3 separate regions of the Homo sapiens genome follow, and regions 2 and 3 are each reported to be linked to region 1. Evidence: microRNA targets listed by miRTarBase, many of them from high-throughput screens and not tested one by one. Region 1 holds a microRNA gene; each other region holds the end of a gene's coding sequence.
What was found. The annotated mature microRNA hsa-miR-548ad-5p reads AAAAGUAAUUGUGGUUUUUG and lies in region 1 at 1,321-1,340, opposite strand. An mRNA with a match to its seed (bases 2 to 7 or 8) in the 3' UTR can be bound and repressed. Matches are read on the target gene's strand: a 7mer-m8 pairs with bases 2 to 8, a 7mer-A1 pairs with bases 2 to 7 and ends in A, and an 8mer does both.

Region 1 (3,256 bases):
CATATTGTGATATAGCTAACATAGAATAGAACTCACTTTAAGTGTACAGCTTGATGAGTTTTAACATATATATACACACACTGTAGTCATGTAACCACTGCCCCATCAAGATACAGAACATTTCATCACCCCTAGAACTTCCCTTGTGACTTTTAGCTGTCAATTACTTCTCTCTACCCCCCACATTCCCCACTCCTGTTCCTAACAAGCACTGATCTGCTTTTGCACTAAAGTCTTGCCTTTCTTAAAGTTTCCTATAGATGCAGTCATACAGATGTAGTCTCTTGTGTCTCACTTCTTTTGCTCAACACAATGTTTTTGAAATTCATCCATATTCCCCGTCCGGGAGGGAGGTGGGGGGGGTCAGCCCCCCTGCCCGGCCAGCCGCCCCGTCCGGGAGGTGAGGGGCACCTCTGCCCGGCCGCCCCTACTGGGAAGTGAGGAGCCCCTCTGCCCGGCCACCACCCCGTCTGGGAGGTGTACCCAACAGCTCATTGAGAACAGGCCAGGATGACAATGGCGGCTTTGTGGAATAGAAAGGCGGGAAAGGTGGGGAAAAGATTGAGAAATCGGATGGTTGCCGTGTCTGTGTAGAAAGAAGTAGACATGGGAGACTTTTCATTTTGTTCTGCACTAAGAAAAATTCCTCTGCCTTGGGATCCTGTTGATCTGTGACCTTACCCCCAACCCTGTGCTCTCTGAAACATGTGCTGTGTCCACTCAGGGTTAAATGGATTAAGGGCGGTGCAAGATGTGCTTTGTTAAACAGATGCTTGAAGGCAGCATGCTCGTTAAGAGTCATCACCAATCCCTAATCTCAAGTAATCAGGGACACAAACACTGCGGAAGGCCGCAGGGTCCTCTGCCTAGGAAAACCAGAGACCTTTGTTCACTTGTTTATCTGCTGACCTTCCCTCCACTATTGTCCCATGACCCTGCCAAATCCCCCTCTGTGAGAAACACCCAAGAATTATCAATAAAAAAATAAATTAAAAAAAAAATGTAAAAAAAAAAAATGTAAAAAAAAAAAAAAAAGAAATTCATCCATATTATTGGATGTATCAATAGTTTGTTCCTTTTTATTGCATAGTAGCATTCCCCTGAATGGATATACCACAGTCTGTTTATTCATTTACCAGTTGATGGACATTTGGGTTACTTCCAGTTTTGGATGATTTTGAGTAAAGTTGCAATGAACATTCACATACAAGTCCTTGTGTGGACCTACGTCTTCATTTGAGAGATTTTTTTCCTTTTAAACTTTTTATTTTATTAGGTTGGTGCAAAAGAAACTGTGGTTTTTGCCATTACTTTCAATGGCAAAAACCACAATTACTTTTGCACCAACCTAAATCTTCCCTCTCTCTGGATTTGCAATTATTCTGTAAATCTAAAGTTAACTTTAGCTAAATCAGGTTGACATCATATACCCCCTAAAGTTAACTTTAGATTTACAGAAGAGTTGCAAATCCAGAGAACCCCCCGTAGTCTTCATCCACCTTCCCCCAATGTTAATATCGTACTAATTATGATACATTTATCAAAACTCAAAAATTAACATGGGCACAGTTGTATTAACTAAACTCCCGACTTTCTTCAGATTTCACCAGTTTTTTCCACTAATGTCCTTTTTCTGTTCCAGGATTTAATCAGGATATAATGTTGCACTTAATTATTATATCATAATAGTCACTTTCAATCTATGTCAATTTCTCTGTCTCTCCTTGTTTTTTTATGACTTTGACATTTATGAAGTGGGCTGGTCAAGTATTTTGTAGGATGTCCCTCAATCTGGATTTGTCTGATGTTTTCTGATCATTAGACTGCAGTTGGGGTTTGGGGAAAGAATACCCCAGAGGTGAAATGGCCTTCTCATCACATAATATTAGGGGGCACATGATATCTACCTGATTGCTCACTGGTGAAGTTAACCTTGATCACTTGGTTAAGGCGTTGTCTACCAGAGTTACCCACCGTAAGCTGCTAATTTCCCTTTCCATACTCTGTTCCAGGGGTGTCCAATCTTTTGGCTGCCCTGGGACACATTGGAAGAAGAATTGTCTTGGGCAACACATAAAATACATCATTAACACTATGACAGCTGTTGAGCTAAAAAAAAAAAAAAAAAAAAAAAAAAAAAAAAGGACCGGGTGCGGTGGCTCACACCTGTAATCCCAACACTTTGGGAGGCCGAGGCGGGTGGGTCACGAGGTCAGGAGATCGAGACCATCCTGGCTAACACAGTGAAACCCCATCTCTACTAAAAATAGAAAAAATTAGCCGGGCGTGGTGGTGGGCGCCTGTAGTCCCAGCTACTCAGGAGGCTGAGGCAGGAGAATGGTGTGAATCCAGGAGGAGGAGTTTGCAGTAAGCCGAGATTGCACCACTGCACTCCAGCCTGGGTGACAGAGGGAAACTCTGTCTCAAAAGAAAAAAAAAAAAAAAGGTCTGTGCATAAATATCATAATGTTTTAAGAAAGTTTATGAATTTGTGTTGGGCCACATTCAAAGCTGTCCTGGGCCACGGGTTGGACAAGCTTACCGTCTATTCATTAGAAGTGAGTCACTCAGGGGAGGGAGATTAGGCCCTGCCTCCTACAGGGAGGGGTTTCAAAGAATTTGTGGACATATGCTAAAACCAGCACCATAATTAATGTGGTATTTTTTTTTTTTTGACGGAGTCTTGCTCTGTAGCCCAGGCTGGAGTGCAGTGGCCTGATCTCGGCTCACTGCAAGCTCTGCCTCTCAGGTTCATGCCATTCTCCTGCCTCAGCCTCCTGAGTAGCTGGGACTACAGGTGCGCACCACCATGCCCAACTAATTTTTTTGTATTTTTAGTAGAGAAGGGGTTTCACCATGTTAGCCAGGATGGTCGCGATCTCCTGACCTCGTGATCCACCCGCCTTGGCCTCCCAAAATGCTGGGAATACAGGTGTGAGCCACCGTGCCCGGCCAATTAATGTATTTTTATTATTTTAAAAGTTATTCTTATTTTTAGAGATAGAGTCTCACTATGTTGCCCATGCTGGTCTTGAACTCCTGGGCTCAAGCTGTCTACCCACCTCGGCCTCCTAAGTGCTGGGATTATAGGCGTGAGCCACTTTACCTGGCCTGCTTGTTTTTTTGAGACAGAGTCTCGCTCTGTCGCCCAGGCTGGAGTTCAGTGGCACAATCTCGGCTCACTGCAAGCTCCACCTCCTGGGTTCACGCCATTCTCCTGCCTCAGCCTCCCGAGTAGCTGGGACTACAGGCGCCC
Region 2 (3,256 bases), not on the chromosome of region 1:
CCGGGAGGTGGAGGTTGCAGTGAGCCAAGATCATGCCATTGTACTCCAGCCTGGGCAACAGAGCGAGACTCCGTCTCAAAAAAGAAAAAAGAAAAAGCCCAAGTCAAAGGGGGAGAAATGGGGTCAGAGACAGCCAAGGATTGGGAGACGTGGGGCAGAGAGGGAGAGGCTGGGCCGGAGATAGACAGGAGTGGAGGTGAGGGAGCAAGGACTCACAGCAGGTGGCAGGTGGCAGGCTTGTGTTCACGCATCTGGCACCAGTGAGTGCCTGTTACATGCCAGGAGTTATTCCAGGAAGAAGGAAACTGATAAAGTGCCCTTGAGAATTTCTCAAACGGGAACTCCTGCAGTGGCAGCTGAGGGGCTCCAGCGCCTTCTCGGGTCCTTCCACCCCATCTGGCTGGGTTTCCCCATAGCCCTGGGCATGGCAGCCTCCACCCCTATGCCCGAGGGCAGATGAATGCCAGAGGGAGTGACCTGGGGCAGGTCACACGGGCAGGAAGAGGCTGCAGGCCACCTGCCCTCCTGTTAAAACAGCACCTGGCACTGGGCACAGCATGAAATGGCACTTACTTGGTAGATATTTGTGAAGAGAATGAACACACAGAATGGGGGTGAAGATGGGCTTTGGAAGCAGCAGAAGCCCATGAAACGGTACTTGGAACTGGGTTTGTCTGGCCGTGTGGGAGACAAAGGTCATCAGGCACAACCTTGCATCTCAGAAGGGGTCAAGAACCCATTGTTTTGGGTTTTTAAAAGCCTCCAATGAGACTCCACAGCAGACATGGTTTCTCAGCTTTAGAAATCGCCTCTGAGGTAGACTGTAAGGAAACTGACTCCATATGGGATTGACTATATTTTTTGCTGCACAGAAATATCCTCCAGTGCCCACTGGCAAGGAGAAAGCCCCACAGGATTTAAGGAGTAACAGTACCCACACATCGAGTCACGTGTCAGACGCTGTCCTGAGCGTTCTGTCTTCACACACCCTATGGGGTCGGGGCTGTCTTAGTCCGTTTGATGGATGAGGAAACAGGCCCAGAGGATTGAAGGGATCAGCCTGTACTCACCCTGCCGGGATGGGGCAGAGTTGGGGTGTGACACCCTGTGGCATTCATGTCCTCCCTGAGGAGGTGGGGTGGGGATGCAATGCCAAGGTGGGTTCCCTGTGGGCCACTGGGCTCAGAAGCAGCCTCCCCCTAGGCTTCCACCTGAACAACCAGCTGACCCAGACCCTCACCAGCCGCTACCGGGATAGCCGTCTGCGTGTGGACTTCGAGCGGTTCGTGTCCTGTGTGGCCCACCTCACCTGCATCTTCTGTGAGTACCACCCCGGCATGGTGGGGCATGGGGGGAAGGGGTACGGGGACTGGTGGGCACTCACCCTGCCCCTCTCTGCACAGGCCACTGCAGCCAGCACCTGGATGGGGGTGAGGGGGTCATCTGCCTGACCCACAGACAGGTGAGCCAGGTGGGAGGGACAGGGTGGCTCAGGCTCTGTCCTGCGAGCTCCCTGCCTCAAGCCACTGTCTTCCTTCTCTTCCTTAGTGGATGGAGGTGGCCACCTTCTCCTAGGATCTCCGGATGGGCGCACCTGCTGCTCAGGGCAGGGTTGCTGAGCAAGACCACCTCCCTAGGCCTTGCCTGGCATGGGTGCCACTCTCTCTGGCATCCACCTGTCTGGGGCTAGTCTCTGGCCCTCACTGCTCACGGCCGGGTGACCACTCTGGCCTGCGTACTCCTCACTCAGAAACAAGAACAGCGACAGCCCTTCTCGAGCAGATGACACGAGCTAGTCCACGTTGACAGCTTAAGACAGTGCTAGCTCTGCCCTGGCTCTCCTAGAAGGTGGAGGACAGACACAGGAGAAATAAAAAAAGATGATGCTGCAGGAATCCTTCTTAAAAATATTACATGTTTTATTATCCTGTCCCCAGAGGGTGGTTTATCCAGAAACCAAGAAAAAAAATCAATCAGAATAAACTCAAAAAAAAAAGGTAGGGGGAGCAAAACCATCAACCACCAGGCAGCCAGGCCATCAGCCCACCTCCACCTCTGGAGGGTCCCCAGAGACCCACGCCCGACGCAGACCCGGAGGAGCATCAGCAAGGGGCCCGGGCAGAGAATCGGCTATGTCTTCATTATGAGAGCAGGAGAGACGGCAGAGATATGTTGCTAGGTGAATATATATTTATATAATAAATCCGTAAGTTAATAAAGTAAATAGTAATTCTCTGAAAGTTTTTAATTCTTTCTTTTTTATAGTTTTTTTGTTTTTGTGATTTTTTTTTTTTTTGGTTTTTGTTGTTTTGTGTTTTTTTTCCTTTTTTTTTTTTGGTTCTTAGAAAATCTGAGACACGTGAGGCCAGACAAAGCAAGGCCGGGGCTGGTGGGATGGGGTGCGGTTCAGGGGGGCCCGGTCTGCCAACTCAGCTCCTCTGCTGCAAAAGCGGGGTGCTTGTTGGGGCCATCTCCTGGCAATGGCAAGTGAGTCTGGAGCAGAGAGGGGAGAGGGGCTGGGTGGGTCCCCAGCCGTCAGGTGGTGGTGGCGCCCTCTGCTGGCCCCTCGCATGGCCCAGGCAGTTCCTGGACAAGGCACATGGGGCTTTGGCCTGGATTGGGGAGGCCTTGAAGGGACCTCAGAGCAAAGGAAGAGACCTGGGTGTGGTGAGGCATCCCAGGGCATGGAAGGGACCGGTTGTGCTGTGGGAATCCACTGGCCCCTCCTTGGTTAAAAAAGCACAACACATCATACATATTTACCAGACCAGAAGCGCTGGCCCCAAGTCTCCCCAACCTGGTCGGGGGAACCTCCTGGCCAACCCACAAAGAGAGAGAGGAGAGAGCCTGCCCCAGCCCCTCCCTGCCCACCCACCCACCCCGGAGGACTGCAGAGAGTGCTTTGCATAGATACAGAGTGGAGGAATGGGACTGTGGGGCTGCCCAGGCCCCTCCTGGAGGCCGTCGGGGGTGTTGGGTCAGGTCTCTGGGGCCTCACAGGTCGCTCTCGCCATACAAGGCCGTGGAGAAGGACTTGTAGTCGAGGGCACCGGGCACGGCGTCAGGGCCCTGGTATGGCGCCATGCGGGCGATGCAGTACTCGGCCTGGTCGGGGGGCAGCTCTCTCCGCAGCTCCTCAGCTGTGATGAAGTTCTGGGGCAGGCAGGATGGGACTCTGAGCCATCCCCACCCACACACTGGCCCCCTCAGCCCCTCCCACTGCAGGGACCCCTCTCGCCAGCCCCCATGCACCTCG
Region 3 (3,256 bases), not on the chromosome of region 1:
TGGAGTTTAACTCCTAGGATCTCCTGTGATAACCGTTTATGATCAGTGAAATTCCAAGTACCCGCGACTTAACATGTCCCAAAATAATCCACGTTGGTGGGAGGGTGACACACAGTTCATGAATGCAAAGAGAAGTCCAATCATATAAACTTAAAAATCAGTTTATCTTAAAATTTTTTTGAATTAGAAGAAATTGATTTCACATGAAAATATAACATTCTGAAGGTAAGTATTTTAAACATTACAACTGTTGGCTGAAATATTTACAAAGTTATAATAAGCTTATAACTGGATGAAAGCATCTATAAAAATAAATAGGCACCCTAGATGTAAAACTTTTACATGAAATAAAATGATTAGTATATATGTATCAATCTGTATCTGGAGTGTTGAATCAACAAAAATAAATGGGCATTTTCTAGTTTGTGTAGTAGTACATGAGTCAGGAGGTTTCAACTGGACAGTACTTAAAAGAGGCAAAACTGGACATTTCTATTTGATATCTACAACTCAACTGAGTTGAAAAGACAAATGTCTGAGACTGCTGTTAAATACAAAAATTAGTTTAAATGTTTCAAATAATACATTTCCAACTCACATCTTAACCAAATAGAAAAAAAAAACTACACAAACTGTGAAAGCTATTAAAAAACTTGAAGCCCATTTTTCTAGTATCTTACAATGTTATAAAAGAAGAAAAACTTTGGTATTTTAAATACAGGTTTACAAACTTTACATTATTTACAAACCCTCCACACTAAAAAATTATGTTAAAAATAAGCTTTCTTAAAACAAAATTAATTTGGCATTCAAGTATTTCTAACTTACGAGAATATAAAGTAATGATCACTCACTATTATAGTTTAAAAAGGCTAGTAAAAACTATAGGCAGAAGATAAAATTTGGCCAAGACTTGGTAACTGGGTGAAGTTAGACTTTTATAAGCAATTATTTTCTGTTTAACAGTATTCACATTAAATTAGTTACAACATTTTAGAATGTTTTAACACGATTTACGCAATCAGTCAAGTGGCTACATTTACTAGTTTATTGAATATGAGGTTTATCCATTTAGCAATGTAAGGAAAACTTTAGTTCTGTTTCTCAGTTATCAGGAGTGAACATAAAACTATTCTAAACCACAATTAGTTTACCAGCATAGTACAAAATAAAATGACAACTAACGAAATAAAGCAATTAAAGTAACTTATTTTTACTCATAAGGTTACCATAATAATAAAAATTCCTTTAATTTTCAAAGCACTCTTCATGAAAAGTAGTTGGGGTAAAATTACTATTTGTTCAAAGTAGAATAAAAGGGAAGGATGCTCTAATTAAACATTTTATTAAAATTAAACTCTCTATATGAAAGGTAGAAATTTAATCTGGAAACCTAGATAGATTTTCAAATTCAGATAAAATGGGTTGACAACCTATAAGCAGGTAATATTACAGCAAAGAAAATGTAGGCAATTACAGTGACATTCCCAATAAGAGGGTGCCCTACATTAATTCCTAACACTGGTGGTTAGCAGCCCAAAGTAAACCAAACCAAAATAAAGACCTTTCACATTTCATATAAAATTAGAAAAAAAGTAACGAGATAAATAAATACACTAAAGTTTAAGTATTTTAACTTTTTAACTTACATGGCTAAAGTAGCATTTATGAATACCTATAATAGTCAAAGGCCTAATTTATCTTAACTAGATATTCTGAAGACAAAAATTCTAGGAGCAAAATTAAATTCCATCCGATCTTGAAAACTTACAAATTGTTAATCATATAAGGCTTTTTTTCCCCAAATGCTATCAAATTCATAAGTCATTTTTTTTAAAGACACTTAAAGGGATCATATGCAGTGACTATCATAGAAGTCAAAAACAAATGGGTGAAGCCCTTTTCTGGTTACCCATTAGAAAGTGCTTCTTCATAAAGCAATTCTTTGACAAAAAAGTACCAGGCTATGTATCACCTGGTACTTTTCAATTAGCATAGTTTATAATCTCCATACATGAGTACTGGTTAGTTTAATACTTCCCAGTCTACTGGCCACAAAATAGGGGGACAAATTTAATTTTTATTCAACTGTAGCATATGACAAATGAATTATTATATCTCCCTGATTTTCTATTTTTCACGGCACGCCAAGACTATTCAAAGGGAATTTCTAAAATATCTAAGATATTGATCATAAAATTATATATGTGTATACACATATACACATACATATGTATAGTGATTAACAACTTTAAAAATGCCACAGGCTTTAATTTTATGTATCACTAGGTTTGGTCAGTAGGTTCCTATTATATTTAAATGGCCTCTGAGAAGTAAAAGTTGGTCAGTTTTACCAGTTATCTATTACAATGTATGCTAGGTTTATATCTTTGTTCAGAAGGGCAGCTTGAACCAAGATTATTATGTAACACAGGTCTAGTCCTTTTTCACTCTAAGATAGTGAATTATTACAAAAGCCACTGCTCTCTGGAAAAGAGAGCTTGGGCCTCTGATGGTATTTCAATCTATATGTATCCGTCATGCAGCTATCAACTGAAAAATAGGTAGTTAATGAAACTGTCTCATTTGGACAGGTAGAAATAGAGTCTAGTTCTGGTTGGCAAAATGCATCAATGGCACCTGAGTTTGCCTGAAAATCGTTAGTTGAGGAGCTGGATGGACAGTTTGGTGTGTTGCCAAAACATTCTCTCACTTGAAATGTTTCTTTATGTCTTTCATCATTCATATGTGTACTCACTTCTAAACTTGGTTCTGAAGCTGTACTTAAACTGTGCTTCGGAAGATGAGAGGTAGCTTTAAACACCTCTGTAAGTTTGACATCAGGTGTAGATTCGCTTTTCTCTGACTGTGGCACACTGGTTATAGCATATTTCTTTGGTGGCAAAGGGGGTGGTAGATTCTGGCAAAAAAGTTTTGGCATCTGACACCCATCAGATCTGCTGGCTGACCGAATTATACATTCTGTGGATAGAGAGTTCTCAAAGTAACATTGATCCATGATATTTTGTTGCTGGATGAGAGGAGCAGTTTCTGGCTTTAACCCAACAGTTCTTAGGTGTGAAGACCATAATGAAGATGGTTCATTACTGTTCACTCTCTTCCCAGAAGCAGAGTTATCAACGTGAAAAGGCAAACCTGTTCTCTCAGAATTTTCTATATTAAGCCACTCAGAAAATTTGCATTCATTCGGTTTTTCAAGTTTCTGTTCATCTGACTGGTGGATATGTTCTCTTGC

Region 2: the mRNA of ACTN4 is a reported target of hsa-miR-548ad-5p. Seed matches in the 3' UTR shown: 8mer at 2,216-2,223.
Region 3: miRTarBase lists USP53 as a target of hsa-miR-548ad-5p. Seed matches in the 3' UTR shown: 7mer-A1 at 1,655-1,661, 7mer-m8 at 1,593-1,599, 7mer-m8 at 1,539-1,545, 8mer at 1,199-1,206 and 8mer at 836-843.

The regions. Positions count from the first base shown.
Region 1 is chr17:67,470,222-67,473,477 of GRCh38, forward strand. It overlaps MIR548D2 (microRNA 548d-2), which reads right to left and starts at 1,364; the gene lies at 1,268-1,364. All of the region lies in intron 1 of PITPNC1 (phosphatidylinositol transfer protein cytoplasmic 1), which reads left to right. It overlaps MIR548AA2 (microRNA 548aa-2), which reads left to right and starts at 1,268; the gene lies at 1,268-1,364.
Region 2 is chr19:38,729,171-38,732,426 of GRCh38, reverse strand. ACTN4 (actinin alpha 4) reads right to left here. Exons shown (of 21, transcript NM_004924.6): 21 at 838-3,153. The coding sequence ends at 2,995. It overlaps CAPN12 (calpain 12), which reads left to right. Exons shown (of 21, transcript NM_144691.4): 19 at 1,204-1,320; 20 at 1,404-1,462; 21 at 1,549-2,235. The coding sequence ends at 1,575. Among named protein-coding and RNA genes, the nearest start is that of CAPN12, 14 kb to the left of the region's middle.
Region 3 is chr4:119,292,408-119,295,663 of GRCh38, reverse strand. It overlaps USP53 (ubiquitin specific peptidase 53), which reads right to left. Exons shown (of 19, transcript NM_001371395.1): 19 at 146-3,256. The coding sequence ends at 2,453. Among named protein-coding and RNA genes, the nearest start is that of ARLN, 6.6 kb to the left of the region's middle.